4 linked regions of the Homo sapiens genome follow. The protein of the gene in region 2 interacts with the protein of the main gene of each other region in a pairwise test. Each region holds a gene or a part of one and is shown on either strand. Other genes may lie near its edges.

Evidence for each region.
Region 1: the proteins of SLC2A3 (region 2) and MTNR1B interact in a two-hybrid assay, tested with the Homo sapiens proteins (one large-scale study listed by BioGRID and IntAct).
Region 3: the proteins of SLC2A3 (region 2) and MTNR1A interact in a two-hybrid assay, tested with the Homo sapiens proteins (one large-scale study listed by BioGRID and IntAct).
Region 4: the proteins of SLC2A3 (region 2) and CREB3L1 interact in binary tests that used the Homo sapiens proteins (3 or more experiments, as listed by UniProt).

Annotation. Positions count from the first base shown.
Region 1 is NC_000011.10:92,966,403-92,972,624, reverse strand, and holds the start of MTNR1B (melatonin receptor type 1B), read right to left. Parts: upstream 2,975-6,222; 5' UTR 2,900-2,974; coding exon 2,677-2,899; intron 1-2,676.
Region 2 is NC_000012.12:7,928,173-7,933,880, reverse strand, and holds part of SLC2A3 (solute carrier family 2, facilitated glucose transporter member 3), read left to right. Parts: coding exon 1-71; intron 72-733; coding exon 734-894; intron 895-2,395; coding exon 2,396-2,636; intron 2,637-3,238; coding exon 3,239-3,401; intron 3,402-4,009; coding exon 4,010-4,197; intron 4,198-5,708. UniProt on the Homo sapiens protein: Facilitative glucose transporter. Can also mediate the uptake of various other monosaccharides across the cell membrane. Mediates the uptake of glucose, 2-deoxyglucose, galactose, mannose, xylose and fucose, and probably also dehydroascorbate.
Region 3 is NC_000004.12:186,548,433-186,554,140, reverse strand, and holds part of MTNR1A (melatonin receptor type 1A), read left to right. Parts: intron 1-5,708.
Region 4 is NC_000011.10:46,297,028-46,302,735, forward strand, and holds part of CREB3L1 (cyclic AMP-responsive element-binding protein 3-like protein 1), read left to right. Parts: intron 1-2,907; coding exon 2,908-3,136; intron 3,137-5,708.

The sequences.
Region 1 (6,222 bases), on a different chromosome or scaffold from region 2:
AATGTAGCAAAGAGTGAACACACTTGGCCTTACCTTTTAAGTTGGGTCGGTGCCCTGACCCTACCTCCCACCTTGCCTCCACTCCTCCCTGTCTGCCTTTCTCTGGTGCTATCTCTGAAGTCAACCCACCACATGCAGCAACAGACACTACAGATAGGATATCCCTGAAAAAAAAAAGACAATTAATCTAACCACTCACCCTGCCATCAGGAGCGGCACTGTTAGGAATGATACAGATCTGCTCCATAGAGGAACTGGGTTTGTGATAGGCAAGTAAAGGATACTGGTGTCTCCTGGGAAACATGCTGTGACCTCAATATGGGCTATGTATCTTGGTTATTGGAAATATATGTATTCTCATTGTTACAGACTTAATTTTTTAATACCAATGATTTAAGGAGCCAGACTTAAGTACAGAAAGGTCTGAAGAAGCGTTTCTTAAATTAAATCCAAACTCTTCAGTAAGACAAGGCCTGATTAAGAGTAGAATGTGTGCTAACTATTCAAAGAGCTGTAGGTTTTAAGCGCCTTTTGAAATCTCACTCTGCTGAGATCATTTAGTTCAAGTCAGTACTACAATTGTTTGTGACTGTCACCAATAAAGCCAGAGGTCACATAAGAACTGGTTAAATTGCAAGACTGCAGCAGTGGCAGGAATTGATGTCATTTAGATATAGTGTTATTATTATTTTTTTTTGTTCGGGTGCTGGGCTGTAGCGGACACATCAGGAGGTAGGAAAGATAGAACAGAGGATATGCCAGCAATTTAACATGCTCATGACCCTCCCCAGTGATGCTCTTAAACTGGTTAGGTTTCTGCAGACCCTGCCAGGATCACAGAAAAGGCCAGCCCTCTGTAGGATGCAGGAGGGGAGGGGTGCTTTTCTCCTTCCAGCAAAAGGAAGCAACTCCTACTTCCCTCAACCACCTTTCTCATGGTGGGCAATCCAAATTACTGAGCAGGGAGCCATGGCCTGACAGACCTGCTCTAAATACTCAATAAGTCAGGGACAGAAGGGGCCAATGTCAGAACCAGGAGGACCCATTTCTCCCCCATAGAGCCAGGAGTTGTCTCCCTTTTGCTTCCCTGTGCTGGAAATGAATGTTTATGATGGCTGCAAGGGACAATGTGTCAAAAATATTAAATGCAGTTTTCTAATCATAACCTGTTTTTCCCTAATATATAAGCTTTTCTTCAAAGGACACAATATTTTGAACAATGTATTCCAGAAAACAGCCACCACTACTGAAGTGAGTTAGAAAGTTTACTTCTTCTTAATAATGTTATGTTTCCCATATGATGGCTGGATACTCACAGTTGGAGGAGTTTCTTGTTTGTTTTTTTAGCTAAAAATCCTAGAGTTGGCCGGGCGCAGTGGCTCATGCCTGTAATTCCAGCACTTTGGGAGGCCGAGGCGGGTGGATCACTTGAGGTCAGGAGTTCGAGACCAGCCTGGCCAACATGGTGAAATACTGTGTCTACCAAAAATATAAAAAATTACCTGGGTGTAGTGGCGAGCGCCTGTAATCCCAGCTACTCGGGAGGCTGAGGCAAGAGAATCCCTTGAACCTGGGAGGCAGAGGTTGCAGTGAGCCTAGACCATGCCACTGCACTCCAGCCTGGGTGACAGAGTGAGAGACTCCATCTCAAAAAAAAAAAATTTCTAGAGTCACAGGCCACACCAAATACATATTACTATTTGCTAAAAATGGTCTGACTCCTTAGAAAAGCATTTTTAAGCTATATGGTTGTTTTACTGCTGCTATCTTTCCATTTTAATTCACTCTAATATTTGAATTTGCTCCCAAGGCCCAACTTGAAGAAACTGCAAAATTAACAAACAGGTGACTGAGCTCCTTCCTAAGCTGAAGTGGTCATCATGCCCCATGACCTGTGAGGGCTAGAGTTCAGATACTGCCCCCCACTCTGGTTTTGTTTCTTTGAAGACCTGACTAGGGGAATATTGAAATGAGAGTGGATTGAAATAGGAAAAATATTTTCAGGATTACAACACGATTTAGCCAAATCATTGCTTTAATTTTCACAGTTAATCCCAGGAATTCCCAGTCTTCGGAAAAGACCACAATATTTCAAAGCAATTTAGTTCAGTCCAAGCAGAATCTGCAATTTCTGCATTTACTCTCCGTCAACTGGAATTGGGTCTTCAGATGACCTGGAGATAAGTTTTTGACACAAAACCTACTGAAATGCTTCCATTGATTAACTCATTTTTTCAGCAAGGATTTTCTAAGCGACTACTACATAAAGCTACAGTGCTTGGCAAGGAAGGAAGTGGGATGTCAAGTACAGGTGGTGAGATTTCTGTGGCCTGATGTGGGCACCTCTGGAAAGACACGCATTGGAGCGCGACGGGGTAGCGATGGCATCCAGCAGCGTGGGTTCCCACAGCGCCGGCGCCCGGCCAAAAAGCGCGCCAGTAAAACTTTCCGCAATTCCCTCTGTGCCAAGCGCGTCCTGGGCAGCCGCACTTCGGAGGGGCAAAACTCACCCTAACTTTTGAGTGCAGAGTCAAACTTAAGGAATAGGTTAGAGTGAAGGGAAAGGGGAGCCCGGGCTGAGGAGGGAAAAGGCAGCGCATATCCCGGGGTCAGGGACAAGATCAGAAGACAAGGAAGGGCCCGATGCCAGCACCCAGCATCAGGAATGGTGCTCACCTGCGTTCCGGAGCTTGCGGTTCCTGAGCACGGAGAGGATCACCAGGAGGTTGCCCACGACGTCCACGGCGGTGGTGACGATGAGCACCGCGGACAGCGCTGGAGCCACCCAGGGAGGTCGAGGGGTCCTGGAGGGCCGCGCGCTGCCAGCCCCCGACCAGCCCGGGCGCACTGCCCACCCGCCCGCCTCGCAGCAGTTGGCGAAGGAGCCGTTCTCTGACATCGCAGACTCTCCCGCGCTGTGCTTTGGCCACCGCGCGGCCCCGGACAGCCGCAGGGCGCGCGCAGTACTGAGCCGGGCGCTCTCTTCCCTGCCCAGCTCGCGTGTGCAAGGGAGGAGGCCAGTGGGGAGGGGTCTGGAGGAGATAACTAATTAAGCGTGGGCAGGGGATGGAGAAAAATATAGGAATGGGAGGAGGACTTGGGGTGCAGCCGTTGTAGAAGGGAGTGCGTCCCTCAGCGGTGCGCTCAGGAACAGCTGGGACCGCACAGCTGTCTCTGCCACCCCGAGCCCAGCAGGTGCCTGGCCCACCTCAGGCTGCGGAGCGCGTCTAGCTTCTGTCCCTGAGTATATAGCCACACCCGAGACCCCGATTTCCTCCACAGCGTCCCCAAGAGAAGCTGTGTCTAGGTAGGGACGTCCAACCCAGGTTGATAGACTGGAGAAGGTGCTGATGGTAGGGACCTCCCATCAGTTGTCAAGAAAGGCAAGGTTTGACGTCCCATAGGGCTGTGCAGCCCGAAAGAGAATGCAACTCCTAAGATGTGGGGACAGAGCCCAGAACAAAGTAGGGTAGACTGTTATATTCTAGGGAGCTGCAGAAAAATACGAACCTAGCCATTTTCCAAGCACTCGCTGGGTATTGTGGGGGGCATTGATGATGTCTCTACTGGGTCCTCTTTATAAAGCCAATACTTTAACATATTTACCAACATATATTTACACATAATACTTAAATAGATGTATGGCCAATATTGGGGGTTATGATGTGGTTTTTGGAGGGGTTAGGACAAGAAGAAGATTGAGGCATGATTACAATAAAGAAGGAACTCAGGTGCCCTTTATTAAAAATGTTTGAGTCGTGATCTGGTGATAATAATAATAGATAACTTCTAATGGGGGCTAATCTTATGACCCCAAAGCACTTTTCACACCCATTAGAATCACTAAAATCAAAATGACTGATTATCCTATATTTGTGGAGGAAGTTAAGCAACCAGAACCCTCATACACTGCTTTTATGAGAATGCAAAATGGTATAGCCACTTTGAAGAGCTGTCTGTTAGCTCCTAATAAAGTTAAATATACACCTATTCTATGACCAGAAGTTCCAAATGAAAAGGAAAGTATATTTCCACCAAAAGACCTGTACAAGAATGTCCAGAGCAGCCTTGTTTATAGGAGCTCAAATCTGGTAACACCTGCAATTTCCACCAACAGAAGAATGGATAAGCAAATTATGGTATGACCTTGCAATGGAATACTACTCAGCAATAAAGATGATTGACCTACACAACAGCATGGATTAATCACAAATATGTTGTATTGAACAAAAGAAGCCAGATACCAAAAAATATATACCATATTATTCCAGTTATAGGAAGTCCAAAATCAGGGAAAATTAATCTATTTTCTAATAGAAATCAGAAAAGTGGTTACATTTGAGGGTGGGTATTGAGAAACAAACACCAAAAAATTTCTGGATTGTTATTTTTACATATGTTATTTTACGTAAGTTATATTGCCCCTCTCCTTTAAAGGGGGGAAAAAAAGAAGGAAGGATGCAGTGGAGACGGAGGGGCTGATGATGCAGAGGCATGAGTGGATGTTGAAGGGAAGGGAGAGGGAAGGGAGAGGTGAAGTGAGCTCATCCTTGAAGTGAGCTAATCCAGAACTCCTTAAAGTGAGCTCATCCAAAACCCAAGGAAGAAATATTATTTGTTAGGAGAGGGAGGCTTTCTTTCTTGTAGTAGAAAGGAATCAGAAGCCAGATGCAAATTCAGATGCACTTCTAAACTGGTGTGAGGAAAGAAGAGAACTCTTGTCTGGCTTCTGTATTCTCAGGGAGATAGAGGCTACCCATTAGCCAGGATTCAGGGGAACAGTGTAGGAGATTTGAAGACAAAAAAAAGATATGAAGGAGCACTTCAGAAAGTGGAAACATTAACTAGTAAAGTATAACAGGCGTGTCAGGAGCATGAATGTCCCCCTGCAGCTTGAGATGATGGCTTCAAATGATGCCACTCAGCCTGGCCAGTGGTTGTTAATCAGCAACTTGGAGCTACTCAGGACAGGCATGGAGAAGGCAGAGTGAATTTCAGTCAGGATTGGGGTCTGCTGGGTAGGAGCAAATAACAGAAGAAAGTTCAGGGGCCTGGTGAGAAGATGGATCCTGGGGTTTACATTAATGAGGGGTGATGAGAAAACAGAGGGGCTGATGGGCTGTGAGACAAAGGAAAAGTCAAGAGATTGCAGGCCCTGTGACTTCAAGGAATTGTGGTGAGTGAATCAGAAAATGTAAGTTGTGGTGCTGAAAGGGTGAGTTGTTTGAAACTGAGATGTCTGAGGCATGTAGATTCTGTTGCTGTGAAGGCTCTGAGGGTGATTATGGGTAGTGGGTTGCTGGTGGAAGGTGAGAAAAATGTTGTTAGAGATGAGAAGGTAAAGGAACTGAGAAGTCGGGGGTGGATATTATGGTGGGGTAAGAAAAGGAAAACTATGAGTCAGGAGGCGAATCCCCAGTGAATGAGGAGGAATGACCAACATGTCCTCAGGAGAGCAACAGCAAAGGGGAAAGAGACACCAATGGGCAGTGTCAAAGCCAAGAGGCTTTTTCAGGAAGAAGAGACAGCCACGCCTTCCCTGTCTTACAGGTGCAAACACATCGTGGCACTTCTCAACTTTCACACGCCAACATAGCAATAGGTGAGTTGGACACAGTATAAGTTACCTCCATCCAGACACACCCTCTAATAACACACATTTGTTAAACTGAGCATGAAACATAGGAATTTGCCCTATGCTGCCTTGGAATGTGATTGTCCATAATAGCATATCTCAAGATAGGCACAAAGAATTGGGATGTTCACCTATCTAAGAAGTCAATGCTACATCCTGGCATGGCTGGCCAGGCTGTGCCTTAAAATGGTGGGGGAATGATACAGCCACTTTGGAAGGCAGTTTGGTGATGCACTGCAAAACAACACATACCCTTACCATCGCATCGAGCAATTGTATTCCTTAGTACTTACCCAAGTGAGTTGAAAATATATGTCCACAGAAAGACCTGCACACCGATGTTTACAGCAATTTTACTTATAATTCCCAAACTTGGAAGCAACCAAGATGTCTTTCAATAGGTGAATAAATAAACAAACTGTGTGGCACATCCAGACAATGGAATATTATTCTGTGTTAAAAAGAAATGAGCCATGATGCCATGAACACTCATGGAGGAACTGTAAATGCATATTACTAAGTGAAATAAGCCAGTCTGAAAGGGCTACATACTGTTTCTTGATTCCAATTATATGACATTCTGGAAA
Region 2 (5,708 bases):
CCATCACAGTTGCTACAATCGGCTCTTTCCAATTTGGCTACAACACTGGGGTCATCAATGCTCCTGAGAAGGTGAGTGCCAGGCCACAATAATTAGAATTTAGAATAGGGAAGTTATTCCTTTAAGTAGGGTTTCAGGAATTCAGAATTTAAGGCCAGGCATGGTGGCATCTGCCTGGAGTCCCAGCTACTCCTGAGGCTGAGGCTTAAAGATCACTTGAGTCCAGGAGTTAAACACCATCCTGAGCAACACAGTTAGTGAGGGTCCCTCCCCAAACTAGGGGATTTTAAGACAAACTTTGTATCTATCCTGTCCAAGACTGAAGATGGAGACAATATTGGTGGGGAAAATTAGTGGGGTCATCTAATCGAAGCACAAAGCTCACTTACTCCCGGAACGCTGGGCGGTGCTGTTCTTCCTCCCACTCTTTCACCTCATAGTGATGCACATCCTGTATTATCCCTTAGGGGTTAGTTACAAAGAAGCTGGGTTCCCTTAGCAGAGGGCTGGGGTAGACTGTGAACATCGGTGCTGCCACCTACTGGGATTTTCAGGACAAATAGAATTACTATTCCAGCGAGAGTTAACATAAATTCCAATACGTTATCTGCCCCTTCCATTCCTGTCTATTTATTCCCTTGATTCTCTAGGAAGGAAATGATCCCTAATGTTTGTCTTTTGTTCTCATCCAACTGTAACAGTCTGTTCTTCCACCAACCCTTTTATTTTGCAGATCATAAAGGAATTTATCAATAAAACTTTGACGGACAAGGGAAATGCCCCACCCTCTGAGGTGCTGCTCACGTCTCTCTGGTCCTTGTCTGTGGCCATATTTTCCGTCGGGGGTATGATCGGCTCCTTTTCCGTCGGACTCTTCGTCAACCGCTTTGGCAGGTATTGACTAGAAACTGGGCAAGGAAGTGGGCTCTACCAGCCACATTGAGGACAAGTGTGGAGAGTTAGGGCAGGGAGGTGATGATGCCTTTGAATAAGAACACCTTGAATTCTAATCAAGGGAAACCTAGTCCAACTGGCCCCGAATATGACTGCCCTTGCTTGGAGCTCTACTACCCTGGAGAGCTCCCACCCAGCTGTGCAAGAGATGAACTGTGAGTGATTGGCCTTTGCAGTCCAGCTAGGGATAGTTCAGAATTATTCCCTAGTAAACTCAACTATGGGGTTTCTAGAAACATACTTAATTTACAAGGTCCGAAGTTGTTTACTTGTATTATAAATGTTTTTATTATTTTACCCAGGATTGGTAGGAATTATTTTTGTCTATGGCAAATGTGGATAATGACAAAAAAAAAGTCTTATTCTATAGAAGCTTAACAATATGTTTTAGAAGGTAGAATATATTTTCATTTATGACTAATGAAGGAACTGTTTTAATTTGCCAATTAGGCACGGTGTGGTGGCTCACCCCTGTAATCCTAGCACTTTGGGAAACCGAGGCAAGTGGATCAGCTGAGGTCAGGAGTTCGAGACCAGCCTGGCCAACATGGCAAAACCCTGTCTCTACCAAAAATACAAAAATTAGCCGGGCGTAGTGACAGGCACCTATAATTCCAGCTACTCCGGAGGCTGAGGCAGGAAAATCACTTGAACCTGCAGTGGGGGTGCAGAGGGTGCAGTAAGCTGAGATCTGGCCACTTCACACCAGCCTGGGCGAAAGAGCAAAACCCCGTCTCAAAAAAAAAAAAGCCGGTGCCGTGGCTCACGCCTGTAATCCCAGCACTTTGGGAGGCTGAGGCGGGCAGATAACAAGGTCAGGAGATCGAGACCATCCTGGCTAACACGGTGAAACCCTGTCCCTACTAAAAATACAAAAAATTAGCCGGGCGTGGTGGCATGCGCCTGCAATCCCAGCTGCTTGGAAGCTGAGGCAGGAGAATCTCTTGAGCCTGGGAGGCGCAGGTTGCAGTGAGCCGAGATCCTGCCACTGCACTCCAGCCTGGGTGACAGACCAAGACTCCGTCTCCAAAAAAAAAAAAAAAAAATGCCAATTAGATATTCTAGAAATGCAATTGGAATTCACATTTAAAAATCGGTAAAGCAACCTGTTTTACTTGATTATGTTGTTCTTTTGTTTTTTTACCCCCCAAGAAAGAGGGTCTTGCTCTGTCACCCGGGCTGGAGTGTAATGGCCCAATCATAGCTCACTACAGCTTCGACCTCCGACCTCAGCTCCCTGAGTGCCTGGGACTACAGGCGGGCACCATCACACCTGGTTCCCAACTAGAAATGTTCTGATAATAGAAAGTGAAAAACAAAAGTTAGATTAAAAAAAAAAGGGATGATATGAGCCTGGAGAAGAACAGAATAATGAGGACAGAGGAGAAGTTAGGAGCCTCTCACTTTGCTAATTCTACTTTGTCTTTGATTAACCTTACAGGCGCAATTCAATGCTGATTGTCAACCTGTTGGCTGTCACTGGTGGCTGCTTTATGGGACTGTGTAAAGTAGCTAAGTCGGTTGAAATGCTGATCCTGGGTCGCTTGGTTATTGGCCTCTTCTGCGGACTCTGCACAGGTTTTGTGCCCATGTACATTGGAGAGATCTCGCCTACTGCCCTGCGGGGTGCCTTTGGCACTCTCAACCAGCTGGGCATCGTTGTTGGAATTCTGGTGGCCCAGGTACTCTAGAACTTCTCATACTTAATGAGTGTTAGTTTCATGGGTCATTAAAAAAGTTAACATAGGTAAAGCACTGAAGAATATCTGGCACATGTTCAATTACATATGGAAGTTTTAGATAATAGATAGTAGCTGAAGAAGCAGGCTGAGGCCGGGCGCTGTGGCTCACGCCTGTAATCCCAGCACTTTGGGAGGCCGAGGTGGGCAGATCACGAGGTCAGCAGATGAAGACCAGCCTGGCTAACATGGTGAAACCCCATCTCTACTAAAAACACAAAAAATTGGTCGGGCGTGGTAGCGGGCACCTGTAGTCCCAGCTACTCCGGAGGCTGAGGCGGGAGAATGGCGTGAACCCGGTAGGCAGAGTTTGCAGTGAGCCGAGATTGTGCCACTGATCTCCAGCCTGGGTGACAGAGCAAGACTCCGTCTCAAAAAAAAAAAAAAAAAAAAAACCATGCTGAGTAGAGAAAGGAAAAGAAACACAATTTGTTTATTTTTTCACATGGTAAAAGAATGTATGATTTTCTGAACTTTTTGTGTTTTAATGAACTTGTGGCCTGTGAAGTATGGGGTTTATAGCATTATCTTTGTGTGGTTTCTAGATCTTTGGTCTGGAATTCATCCTTGGGTCTGAAGAGCTATGGCCGCTGCTACTGGGTTTTACCATCCTTCCTGCTATCCTACAAAGTGCAGCCCTTCCATTTTGCCCTGAAAGTCCCAGATTTTTGCTCATTAACAGAAAAGAAGAGGAGAATGCTAAGCAGAGTGAGTATCCTTCACACCTTACTACATGAATTATATGGTTGTGGTTTGTTTTAGGGATGATTGTACTGGACCTACTTTCTGTTACACTCTTTCCCTGCCTCTCAGAATCCAAGTGAGGAGGGTTCTGATTACTCCTGAGTAAAATTTTCAGCCCCTAAAGAATGAGGTGAAAAGGCGGGTTTAGGAATGGATGCTATCAGGCAGGGTGTGATGGCTCATGCCTGTAATCCAGCATTATAAGAGGCCGAGGCGGGTCACCTGAGGTCAGGAGTTCAAGACCTGCCTGAAACAACATGGAGAAACCCTGTCTCTACTAAAAATACAAAATTAGCCGGGCATGGGGGCGCATGCCTGTAATCCCAGCTACTTGGGAGGCTGAGGCAGGAGAATCGTGTGAACCCGGGAAGTGGAGGTTGCAGGGAGCTGAGATCATGCCATTGCACTCCAGCCTGGGCAACAAAAGTGAAACTCTGTCTCAAAAAAAAAAAAAGGAATGGATGCTACCCATCACCTCACCTCGTGCGGCCCTTTCCTGGCTGCCTTACAGGAAGAATGAATTTGGGGCAGCACATTCTCTTTTATCCTTTCCTCTTTCTTCTTTTCACCAGTCCTCCAGCGGTTGTGGGGCACCCAGGATGTATCCCAAGACATCCAGGAGATGAAAGATGAGAGTGCAAGGATGTCACAAGAAAAGCAAGTCACCGTGCTAGAGCTCTTTAGAGTGTCCAGCTACCGACAGCCCATCATCATTTCCATTGTGCTCCAGCTCTCTCAGCAGCTCTCTGGGATCAATGCTGTGAGTGTGATACTTTAGGGTCAAACGTGTCTTAAAGTATTTCACTTAAAATGCCGGGCATGGTGGCGGTGTGCCTCTGTAGTCCCAGCTACTCAGGAGGCTGAGGTAAGAGGATCACTTGAGCTCAGGAGTTTCAGGTTGCAGTGAGCTATAATTATGCCACTGCATTCCAGCCTGGGAGACAGAGTGAGACTGTGTCTCTGAAATTTAAAAAAAGGAAAAAAAAAAAAGACCCTGGAAGGACACTGGCAACTTCAGAGTGAACTGACTTTACCAGTCTGTTTTTACAACTAGTATAGCGAGCATGGTAGTTTAAAGAGGGCATGATAGATGATAGTTTAAAGAGGGCGGCACAACGGAAGCTAGCATTTGGCAGGTAGCCCTTGTATTCCATGCAAATATCAGCTTCCTGCATTTGACTGTGGATTGTAGGAAGAGAGTATTCCTGTGCCTTCTAGTCAATATGGATATTAAGAGCACCCTTGTCCCACCTTTTTAAATACTGATTCATCCCCTAAGGGTTTTCAGATAGTCTTTGATCAATGGGATTAAATTATTTTGTAACAAAGCATTTTGCAAAACTTACTATTTTGAGCATTTTGATGCTCAAAATAGTAAGTTGGTTCTTGGAACTTTTCTCCTACCTAGCACACCAGGATATTTGTATTTGAAGTGGCAGTGCTTCTTATGAGGGGTTAGAGGCTGTTATGTCAGAATCTATGAGGAGCCAAGTGTGGTGGCTGCTCATGCCTGTAGTCCCAGCTACTACTCGGGAGGCTGAGGTGGGAATATCACTTAGGCCCAGGAGTCAAGCCTGGGAAATATAGTATGACCCTGTCTTTAAAAAAAAAACTTGGGAGGAAATACACAGTAGTTAGAAAAAGCCTCCTAGGTGATTTTGATGAATCCCAGTCTCAAATTTCTTCATTTGGAAATGATAATGTAGGCCACACGTATTACTGGAGAAAAATGTGCTCCCGAGACTTTCCAGAGCAGCAGAGCTGGGACTAGGCAGGTGAGGCAGCTACGTGCAAGTGTAGCCCTGAGAATGAGCACCTCTTTAAAGAATGTACCTTGCGTTAGTTCTGTGCCTGTTTAAAAAAAGAAAAAAGAAAGAATGAAAGAATGCACCTGAGGCAACTCCCTAGCTGCCTCACCACAGTCCAGGCCCTGCAAAACAGGATCAGTAAAAGATCACCTGTGAGAAATGACAAGTGATCCGTGAGCAGTCTGAGGGACAGACTCCTGCCATTTCAGAGTATGGTGTGTACATTCTTTTTTTTTTTGAAACAGAGTCTCACTCGATCGCCCAGGCTGGAGTACAGTGGCACGATCTCGGCTCACTGCAACCTCCACCTCCTGGGTTCAAGCGATTCTCCTGCCTCAGCCTCCCGAGTAGCTGGGACTACAGGCGTGTGCCACCATGCCTGGCTAATTTTTGTATTTTTAGTAGAGAACAGGTTTCACCATGTTGGCCAGGATGGTCTCGATCTCTTGACCTCATGATCCGC
Region 3 (5,708 bases), on a different chromosome or scaffold from region 2:
CTCACTTCGTAGGTGATTGATATAAACTGGAGGAATTCTGCCTTCGAGAAGAGGCTCTTTCCTTCCTAGCAATAAAAACGACTTTCTCTGGACCAAACAGGTTGTGAGCACTGGGTTAATTGAATCCTAGTGCAGCCTTGTGCTGTGGCGCCGTGGTCAACTCGCCTTACAGAGGAGAAACTGGGGCTGCAGATTGTTCCCAGGGACTGTAGGTGTGAGCCCGGTTGAATTCCCAGAGCTGGCCTCCAGAGCTCGCCCTGCTTCCTTGCTGTCAACACCTGCAGCATTTGGGAAGTTTGAATCCTGCAGAACCTTTAAAAAGTGTTCACGGCTGGGCGCGATGGCTCAAGCCTGTAATCCCAGCACTTTGGGAGGCCGAGGTGGGTGGATCGCCTGAGGTCAGGAGTTCGAGACCAGCTGGCCAACATGGTGAAACCCCGTCTCTACTAAAAATACAAAAAATTAGCTGGATGTGGTGGCCCACAGCTGTAATCCCAACTACTTGGAAGCCTGAGGCAGGAGAATCGCTTGAACCCGGGAGGCGGAAGTTGCAGTGAACAGAGATTGTGCCATTGCACTCTAGCCTGGGCAACAAGAGTGAAACTCCATCTCAAAAAAATAAAATAAAATAAAAAGTAAAAAATGATCACGCCTGAACAATTTTACTTCTTGTGTTTTCTGAAGAAGAACTTAAGAACTCCTTACACTCACTTTGTATTTTATTTGCTAAGACGTGCTCTTAAGAGGATATTCCTGTAGCTGCATGGGAGACCCTTAGTGACCTTTAATCCGCACAGCTTTAGAAGTTCCATATTTTTCTAATAGGGATTTTTTGTTTATATGTGCGGTTCAAGCCATTTGAGGATTTCTGGAATGGATGGTAATTTGAAACAGTGATAAGGATAGCTGATTCAAATATAAGTTTTGGTATGCTTATTAAAAGTTTTGATGATCTTCAGACCTCTCATTTCAGCTAAATTAATTTTGTTGGCTTTAAGGATGAAATGTTGGGAAGAAGAGAATGGAAGAAATGACAATGTGAAGGCATCTAGGCTTTGAACCATCACTTTCCTTTGGAAAGCTTGGTATAATTGTGGTGATTTATGCCACCTTCCTCTCCTCAAGGGACTGTGTTGACATTTGACTTCCCAGGGAATAAATTAAAAATGGCTAACAATCTGCATGGCGGGGACAGTGGACAGCCACAGCCGACGCAGGCTGCAGACAACCACTGGTATCTGTGGTGCCAACAGAATATTCGCTCTACTCTTGTCCACAATTTGATAATAGAAGTGAAGCTACCATATCATATCTTCTGAGTAAATTTGATAGCATAAGGGACGATTCCCGCAATGGAACGCTAGGATTAGATCCTTGCTGTGCTCCTTCTGATTTCAGAAATCAGTGAAGCTAAATACCAAACTTCATTTTCCACATTTGTTGAATTGCAGGTAATACCCAACCGCTTAGCCTCATAAGAGTGTTGCAATGACTGTAGTGAAGTGGCGCATATGAGAATACTTTGAAAAGGATAAAACACGTAATACTGTGTTGGCTTGTTTGTTTTCTGGGTACACCTAACAAGGGCGTGCTCTGTTTGCTGGAAATCATTGCACTATAGACCTATGATTCGTGCATTTTTCTATATGTACATTATACTTAAATAAAACTTATTTTACAAAATATCAGGCAAGAATACAATACTATCTTGCCTATTCAAAATTCAATTATCTGGCAATCTAACTGAGGTAGAGTACAGCCAATAAATGGAAATTAGCAAAAATGACAGGCTCTCACCTACAGCGGATTTGTTCTAACTTAGAGTGCCACAAAACTGTGATACTGGTGTCTAGGTCCCTGTAGATTATGAGCAGGAAATTAGGAGGAAGATTGACACATTTAAAGAAATAGCACATAATAGCAAGCAGTATGGGTTGAAATAGACTCATTAAATGCAGATCTGAGAAACAGAACAAGCACAACCTTTTGTGCTTACATTGTGAAGATGTGAACAGCCCTGCTCACCATTCACGGCTCCTGAAAGCAGCACAGTGCAGCAACATATGTATTATCATCACCTGATTCATCAGCGAGAGATGTCATCATGAGTGGTGTGTTCTACTTAAGAAGACAGGGATATGATACATTTTAGAAAGATACCTGTCAAAAGCAGTTTATTATTATTATTATTTAATCTGTGTGCACAGTAGGGTAAACTTGTCAGTATATGTTTTTAAAAATGGTTTCCCAGAATGGCTCTATGGCTGGATGGCTGACTCTGTGTGAAGCCTCTCTTGCACTTGTTGCTTTCAGGTCTCTATAGAATGTTATATTTATTCATTCTGCATTACCACTCAGAGAGGATGCATAGAGTACGGAGTGAATGTGGACTTTGGGCCTCAGAGATCTGGTTCAAGTCTCGGATGTACCACGGCTGTTTAAGATGCCACTTTTCTTACAGGGATACTAGAAGGATAAACTTAGATTCTGCCTATCAGTCCACTTACCTACCCATCCACCCACCTATACGTCCAACCACCCATTCATCCATCCAGCCACCCATCGTCCGTCCATCCATCCATCTATCCATCCATCCACCTACCTACCCACCTATCTATCATTATGAGGTACAAATAATAGTATTATGATGTTAATGCTAGTACGCATCTGGTGATTAGTTCTTTTTAGATTGTTTTTATTTTTTAAGTGTATGTTTAAAAAAAAAAACAAGTAGACAATATGAACTGGAAAACAGTGAAATCAACCAGAAATGGAAGGTTTAGAATCTAATTCCCATTTGTGACATTATGCAAAATACACAAAATCTCCATTGTCTGAGTTTTCCCTTTTGTAACAACCATTATCTCTCTGCAGCAAGAAGGCCTGAGATTTAAAGACTGATTATTTCGATATTCAGCTGTTCTCTAATTTTAAGTGAATCAGCTCTAGAAGCTACAGTAGCTTCCTTGGGCAAGCAGGCTACCATTCAAAAACCTACGACGTAACTTGTACTGTACAGACTTGGAAAATGATTTCAAGCTAACCCCACTTCATGCGATCTCCAAGCCGAGAGGTTTCTTGTTGGCGCTGCTGTAGTTTCCCTCCTGTTGCTTTCCACAATATTTGAAATTACTGATTCAAGGCAATTTTTTACTTTAGAGACATTTTATTGATTTTTCCCCCTTGTATTCTTAGCTGTTGTTCAGTTTTCTATGACTTTCTATCTTGGTTTGTATAGTACATTGTTATGAACCCTAAGTTTTTACAAATATGTCAAAGTAATTCCCAGAATCCCCTGTAAATCTTATGACAGTAGTTTCAGACTCTCAAATACATGATTGAATTTGTCTGATCTTTCGTTCCTCCAGCTATTCATTTCGTAAGAAAGTATTTCTGGCAGGAATTTTCAGTGTTAAATTAATCACAGATAAGATAGAGCTTACTTTTGCTTGCCTTCAGCATCATTTTTCTCTTGGCAATTTTGGGAGTTAACCTAGGATAAAATAGTCCTAGATTAGACCTCCTTCTATTAATATTTACTGCCATTTGATGGTTCTGTTTTAAAAAGCATCTACACTGAAAACTATCATGCCTTGGAAGTCACTTTAAATCTCCACAGAGTCTTTGGAGCTCATTCTGCCCATTCTTCCTTAGCACCTTTTAAAAATAATCAACAGAATAACTGAAATGAATGGTAAGATCTTTACAAGGTGCCTTAAGCTTTCCCTTTTTTCTACATATTTGTAAGTTGCCTCGCTGACAGAAATACCCTTTCTTCTAAAAAGGAAACTCACATACTCCTTTAGAGTTTTCTAGTACCAAAAAGGCAATTAGTGGATTGTTGTTAAAGAAGCGTTTTTATGAATGCACAGAACTCTGCACGGTATCATTGGTGCCATCTCTGCCTCTTCATGAAGATGATCAGCAGCCTCACTTCTGCCCCTCTCAAATAATCAAGGTGACCAGGAACCTGAGCGCTGTATGTGATATCTCTGTGATTTTTAGTGCAGTTAAATAATGCTGCAGATAAGAAATAAACTGCTGGATTCTCTGGATGAAGTACTCAAACACTTGTCTTTCTACAGAGCTGTATACACTTTCGGCAATGCCATTGAAGGAATCAGTCTCAGAAGAAGAGACGGGAGAGAAAATGCATTTGCACGGTGCTGAATATTATTTAAGTTAATGGAGGTGAATTTGAGTTGTTAGGGTGCACGGTTTAAAAGCGTGCTCACTTGCTTTGATACTGAGTAGTTTTGGTGCTTATTGAGCTGAACATTTACCTGGATAAATACTTACTGCATTCCTAGAGTATAAGGCAGAATGTAAATGGTTGGTAAATTTTTGCAGGTTTGTCAAAATTCAAGGTCCTGTTCTAAGCGTGGGTCAAACGCGGCTCCGACTTTCAAAGAGATTACTTTCTATCGAGGCACTTTAGAAATGTGTGTTCTTCTTATTTTCAAACAAAGAGAAGACTTGGGGTACAAAAGTATGAAAATAGGAGCATATTTATACAGCAGAAAACTTTTTCAAGAGAAATGCGAAAGTTGGCTGGTAGATGGTAGCTGGAGCTTAAAGCAATCATGAGAATTTTTTAAAGTTGTTATCTTACGAGGAGAGAACAATGTAATAACTGGGAGATGTGAAAACTAGTTCACATGTGAAATAGCAGCAGATTGAGACGGAATTAGTGAGAGAATTTCAAAGAAACTGATCAGTGGTAGAGACACGGCATAACTATTAGTGAAGAACACACTGGCTTCAGGTCTTTCGAAGAAACGCCTGCTGGAGAACTAGCCTGCTAACTTACATTTATACTTGTTTTCTCAAATAGTTATTAAGTGGTGGATTATAAAAATGTGTAATCAGTAATTAGTATTTCCTCTTTGATGATTTTCTGAACATATTTAGGAATATGTTCTTGGAAGGGATATTGTGCTTTCATCCTTCCTGCATTCATTCCCTCCTCCTTTATTTAAATGCTTGCTGGATGCCTCCTATATCCATCTATAGGAGCTTAGGACACGATTTTGTTTCAAGAGAAAATTCTGGTTCACTCATTTTTATTTTAAGATGTGGTTTAAATTGCAATTTTTACTTTTAAGATTTTTTGCCAGTTAGTTTTCATTCCATTTTTTCCTTTTATTATTTACTTATCTTTTTTAGCTCCTTTCGTTGTTCCCTCTGAATTTGGAATACTTCCAACTGTTCTCATTTGTGTATATGTCTGTGTAGGTATCATATAGTCTTTTACCATGTACTTTTTTTAAAAGATTGTTTTACATATATAGTGTATATATATATATATATATATATATATATATATATATCTTTATAGATTAAGCATTCCTTATCTATGGAAGATTAGTGCTATTATAGGTCATTTTTTTTGGGATGTGTCCCTCTGAAACACATGGCCTCTGGAACCAGATGCCTGGAGTAAAACCCGGGCTTTGCCATCTCATGCGTGTGACATAGGGCAAGTGACCTAATTTGCTCAGTTTCCTCACTTGTTAATTTGGGACAATACTAATATTGTAAGGACTAAATGGCTTGCTGTATACTTAAAGTGCATTATGAATTAAATATAACATTCCCAGCAGCAGAATAAATTCCTTTTGTTAGTTAGTATTCTTGGTGTAGAGTTCTGATGTGTAAACATATTTTTATTTTTAAGGCAGAATGCAATATTTCACACTTACAGGTCT
Region 4 (5,708 bases), on a different chromosome or scaffold from region 2:
TATCGCCTGAGAAGCAGCTGCTGGAGAAATACCTTAGCGGCTGACTCACCGGCTCCCTCTGCTCACAGCCCCCTCCCACTGGGCCCAACACCAGGCCTTTGAGAGACCCTAAGGGAGAGAACTGGCGGAAGCGCCCCCAGCCGGCAGGCCCGGGCTCTGCGGAGGGTGTAGCCAGCGCGGCCCTGGCTGTGGCTGGCTGGGTGGTTGGGGGGTGGTTATACCCTGTAAATGGCCTCTGTCTGGGATCACAGTGATTCTTAGAAACTCATTCAGCTCTGACCTCCTGGTACTGCCTCACTCCAGGTATTGATGGACAATTGGTATGCTGATGGCATTGCCATCTGGGTTCTAAGGCCCTGTCCCTCCACCAGTATCATGAGCCAGGTGCTGGAAGGCAGCAGGTGAACAGGGTGCAAACCCTGCTTCAGGGCAATTACCGGACCGGGGAGGGTCTGCTGCAGTTGTAAAAGACTGGACAGTGAGGGATGGTGGGCACCTCCCTGCTGCATTAGCGCCCTTGGCCTCAGTTTCTCTCTCTGTCAAATGCCAATATGCATTTGTCTTGTCTCATTGGATAATTGTGAAGATTAAATGAAATAATGCATAGGAGAGCACTTTGGGTTAAAAGCACAACAGAAATGTAGGATGATGATTGATTGCTGGCAAACTGGGAAGTGGGAGAGTACCCCTGCCAATGGGGCTTCTGAGCTCATTTTGTCCTGGATTATCTCATCAGGCTTTGTTTGGAGGGAAAGGCCAAACATTCCCCCCACAACTCCCACCATTGGTTCCAAGCTCAGCTCGGGGACAGAGTTTAGGGGCTGCAGTTTTCATGATGACGATAACTAACAATGATCGAGCATTCACTCTGTAGCAGGCACTGTTCTGTGTTTTATATGTACAGTATTTACTCATTTTACCCTCATACTCCTATGAGGTGAGTACTAATCTAACAAAATTTTAGATCCTCATGGCAACACTATGAGGTAGGAACTATTATTTTCCCCTTACGGATAAGGAAACTGAGGCACGGGGAAGTTAAGCAACTTAGCAAGTGGTGGAGCTAGGAGTCAAAAGCACGTCTATGTGACTCCAGAGCTCGTGTTCATCTCCTACTCCATGCAGACAGACTCATGTGGCCCTGAACCTTATGCTCATACAGAAGGCTTCTCTGCTCATTACCTTCCAGGTTGGGACAGGCTCCCAATATTCCAGGCCAGAAAGGGCCAACAACTCCAGACCTTGAAGGAATCCCCTGGCACAAGCCTTTAACCACTCAGCAGGCAGGGCTTCAGGACCTAAGGCAGCCCCCCATCCCCCATCTCTTCTGACCCACCAGCAAATTCATTCGTTCAATAAATAAGGAACAAACAATAGAAACATTTATTGGACAGGCACGGTGGCCTACACCTGTAATCCCAGCACTTTGGAAGGCCGAGGCGGGCAGATCACTTGAGGCCAGGAGTTTGAGACCAGCCTAGCCAACATGGTGAAACCCCATCTTTACTGAAAATACAAAAAATTAGCTGGGCGTGGTGGTGCGCACCTGTAGTCCCGGCTGCTTGGGAGGCTGAGGCATGCAAATCACTTGAACCCGGGAGATGGAGGTTGCAGTGAGCCAAAATCATGCCACTGCACTCCAGCCTGGGTGACAGAGTGAGACTCTCACAAGCAAGACAGAAAGAGAGAGAAAGAAACATTTCTTTACACATTTATAATTCTTTAGAGAGAGAAAAATAATGTACAAGAACCTACCATATGTCAGCCACTGGAGTGCTTTACTAACAATAAGAGGCAACGTTTATTGAGTAATTACTATGTGCCAGGGACTGTTATAAGGCCTGTACGTGGATTAACTTGTTTAATCCTCATGACAATCTTGGAAGGTAGGAACTATTAATATTACCAGCTGTACAGAGGACGAAATGAAACAGAGAGGTTAATTGACCTTCCCAAGATCATGGAGACCAAGATTTTTCAGACTTTTTTGTTTCTAAGAAATATATTTTACATCATTACCAAGTACACACATGTGCGTTCACACACACAACTGTGATTTTTTTTAATTGCCAGGTATTTAACTCCACTGTGTGCTGTGCACTCTGATATTTTCTACTTTTTTTTTTCTGTTTTATTTTTACTTAAAATTCTGGTCGTGACCCACTAAATTGATTTCACAACCCATTAATGAGTCACCACCCACAGTTTAAACAGCACTGAATCATAGCTAGAAGGATGGAGGCCACCATTCGAACCTAAATAGTAGGGCTCCGGAGCCTAACCTCTCCATATAAAGGATGGCTTGGGAAAGGAGAGAGACCCCGAAGTCTTGAGGACAGATGGACACTGTGCTGCTGAGGAGACTGGAGGCCTCAAGAATCCCACTGCCCTGCATCACTCCCTTCCCACATTCCAGCAAAAGATCATACAAAATTCACTAATATTGCCTTTGGAAAACAAACTTGTTGGCGTAGACACACGGTTGTTCTTTTACTTTGTCTTCACATCAGCCTATGAAGGAAGTAAGAAGGACTGAGAAACTGACTCACGCAGTTTAAGTGATTTGACAAAGGTCACAGAGCCCAGTGTCCTGTTGCCTGGTCCAGGGAGTTTTTGATCCCATCCTGAGCTCACCCTTGCAGATAACAATGGTGAGCGTGGAGCTGGTGGTAGAGAGAATGGGATGACAGTGGTAACGGTCATGATGGAAATGATGAGAGTTGGTGTTGCAATGTTGGTACTGGGGAGATTGGTGATGTTGCTGATATTAATGGGAATGGGCACAGTAATGGGAGGTTGCAGGGACAGTGGTGGCCATGGTGGGGTGCTGCACCACCACAGTAGCACCTGCACCCCCTTCCCAAGCAAAGCTGAATTCCCTCTTCCCCTCACCTCTTCCTTCCCTAGCACTTTCCTGAGCACCTGGACCACTTTACGGAGAACATGGAGGACTTCTCCAATGACCTGTTCAGCAGCTTCTTTGATGACCCTGTGCTGGATGAGAAGAGCCCTCTATTGGACATGGAACTGGACTCCCCTACGCCAGGCATCCAGGCGGAGCACAGCTACTCCCTGAGCGGCGACTCAGCGCCCCAGAGCCCCCTTGTGCCCATCAAGATGGAGGACACCACCCAAGGTAAGAGGTGGAAGAACCTGGGGACAGCACAGGCCCAGGAGGCCCAGGAGGGAGGAAGCTCTGGGGTGACAAGAGAGTGTGCCTGCAGCCTGAGACTCCCAGAGGCTCCAAGAGGAGCCACCACAAACCCCTTAGGAGGTGCTCCTCCCTGCCTTTCTGTTCTCCCTCAGCTCAAAGCCAGAGGAGCACTTCTCAAAAGGGTTTTTTGCTGACTTAAGTCAGTGGTTTACAAAGTGTGGTTCCCAGACCAGCAGCATCACCTGGGAATCTGTTAGACATGCAGATTCTCGGGTTCCACCCCCAACCTGCTGAATCACAACCCTGTGGGTAGGGCCCAGCCTTCCAGGTGATTCTGATGCACACTCAGATTTGCAAACCGCTGACTTAGAGGAGACAGTGGGGGTAATTCAATAATAACTGTGGGGCCGGGTGTGGTGGCTCACGCTTGTAATCCCTGCACATTGGGAGGCCGAGGCAGGTGGATCACCCGAGGTCAGGAGTTCGAGACCAGCCTGGCCAACATATGGTGAAACCCCGTCTCTACTAAAAAAAAAATACAGGGCCGGGCGCGGTGGCTCACGCCTGTAATCCCAGCACTCTGGGAGGCCGAGGCAGGCGGATCACTAGGTCAGGAGATCGAGACCATCCTGGCTAACACAGTGAAACCCCGTCTCTACTAAAAATATTAAAAATTACCCGGGGGTGGTGGCGGGCGCCTGTAGTCCCAGCTACTTGGGAAGCTGAGGCAGGAGAATGGCGTGAACCCGGGAGGCGGAGCTTGCAGTGAGCCAAGATTGCGCCACTGCACTCCAGCCTGGGCGACAGAGCGAGACTCCATCTCAAAAAAAAAAAAAAAAAAAAAACCAACTAGCTGGGCGCGGTGGTGGGTGCCTGTAATCCCAGCTACTCGGGAGGCTAAGGCAGGAGAATCGCTTGAACCCAGCAGGCGGAGGTTGCCGTGAGCCATTGCACTCCAGCCTGGGTGACAAGAGCGAAACTCCGTCTCAAAAAAAAAAAAAATACAAAAATTAGCCAGGCGTGGTGGTGCGCTCCTGTAGTCCCAGCTACTTAGGAGACTGAGGCACAAGAACTGCTTGAACCCGGGTGGAGAAGGTGTAGTGAGCTGAGACCGCACCACTGCATTCCAACCTGGGCAACAGAGTGGGACTCCATCTCAAAAATAATAATAACTGGCTGGGTGCAGTTGCTCATGCCTGTAATCCCAGCACTCTGGGAGGCTGATGCGGGTGGATCACCTGAGGTGAGGAGACGAAGACCAGCCTGGCGAACGTGATAAAACCCCGTCTCTACAAAAATACAACAATTAGCCCAGCATGATGCCCTCCATCACATGGTGCCTCCATTACATGCTGCCTGTCATCCCAGGTACTTGGAAGGCTGAGGCAGGAGAATCACTTGAACCTGGGAGGCGGAGGCTGCAGTGAGCCAAGATTGCGCCATTGCAATCCAGCCTGGGCAACAGAGTGAGACTCCGTCCCAAAAAAAAAAAATAGACGGGGTGCTGTGGCTCACGCCTATAATCCCAGCACTTTAGGAGGCTGAGGTGGGCGGATCATTTGAGGTCAGGAGTTCAAGACCAGCCTGGTCAACATGGTGAAACTACTAAAAATAGAAAAATTAGCCAGGCGTGGTGGTGGGCACCTGTAATCCCAACTACTCTGGAGGATGAGACAGGAGAGTCACTTGAACACAGGAGGCAGAGGTTGCAGTGAGTCGAGATCAAGCCACTGCACTCCAGCCTGGGTGACAGAGTGAGACTCTGTCTCAAAAATAATAATAATACTATCCTGGCTAACAGAGTGAAACCCCATCTCTACTAAAAATAAAAAATAAATTAGCCGGGCATGGTGGCGGGTGCCTGTAGTCCCAGCTACTCAGGAGGCTAAGGCAAGAGAATGGCGTGAACCTGGGAGGCGGAGCTTGCAGTGAGCTGAGATTGCGTCACTGCATTCCAGCCTGGGCAACAGAGCGAGGCTCCGTCTCAAATAATAATAATAATAATAATAATAATAATAATAATAATAATAATAATAAGCTGTAGACAAGTTACCAAGACTCTAGAACCTCACTGCCTCCTCATACTATGTTGTCCTCTGAGACGCTACTTGAGAGAGATTCCTTCTTTTATTCCTGAAGGTAGCATTCTCTAAAGCTCTCCTCTCCCCCTAACTCCATCCTTTAAAGCAAAGAGCACCCTGAGTTCTTCCACTCAGGTAATCAGCATTCAAGACCCACATTGTGCCCCACTTAGAAATGGTCCCTTCGGGCATTTCCTCAAATACAGGTGGTCCTGGCTCTGTCGCTTTTGGCTACGTGATCACAGACATGTTGCTTAACCTCTGTAATCCTTAGTATCTATATCTACAAATGCAAATAACAATAAACATTTCTATAGTACTCTCCAGTCTACAGATTGCCTTCATGTTAATTATCACATTTATTTCTCATGACTGACAGGTGAGGTTGGAATCACTTTTATCATAATCTCCATGTGACCGATAAGAAAACTGAGACTTGGCCGGGTGCAGTGGCTCACGCCTGTAATCCCAGC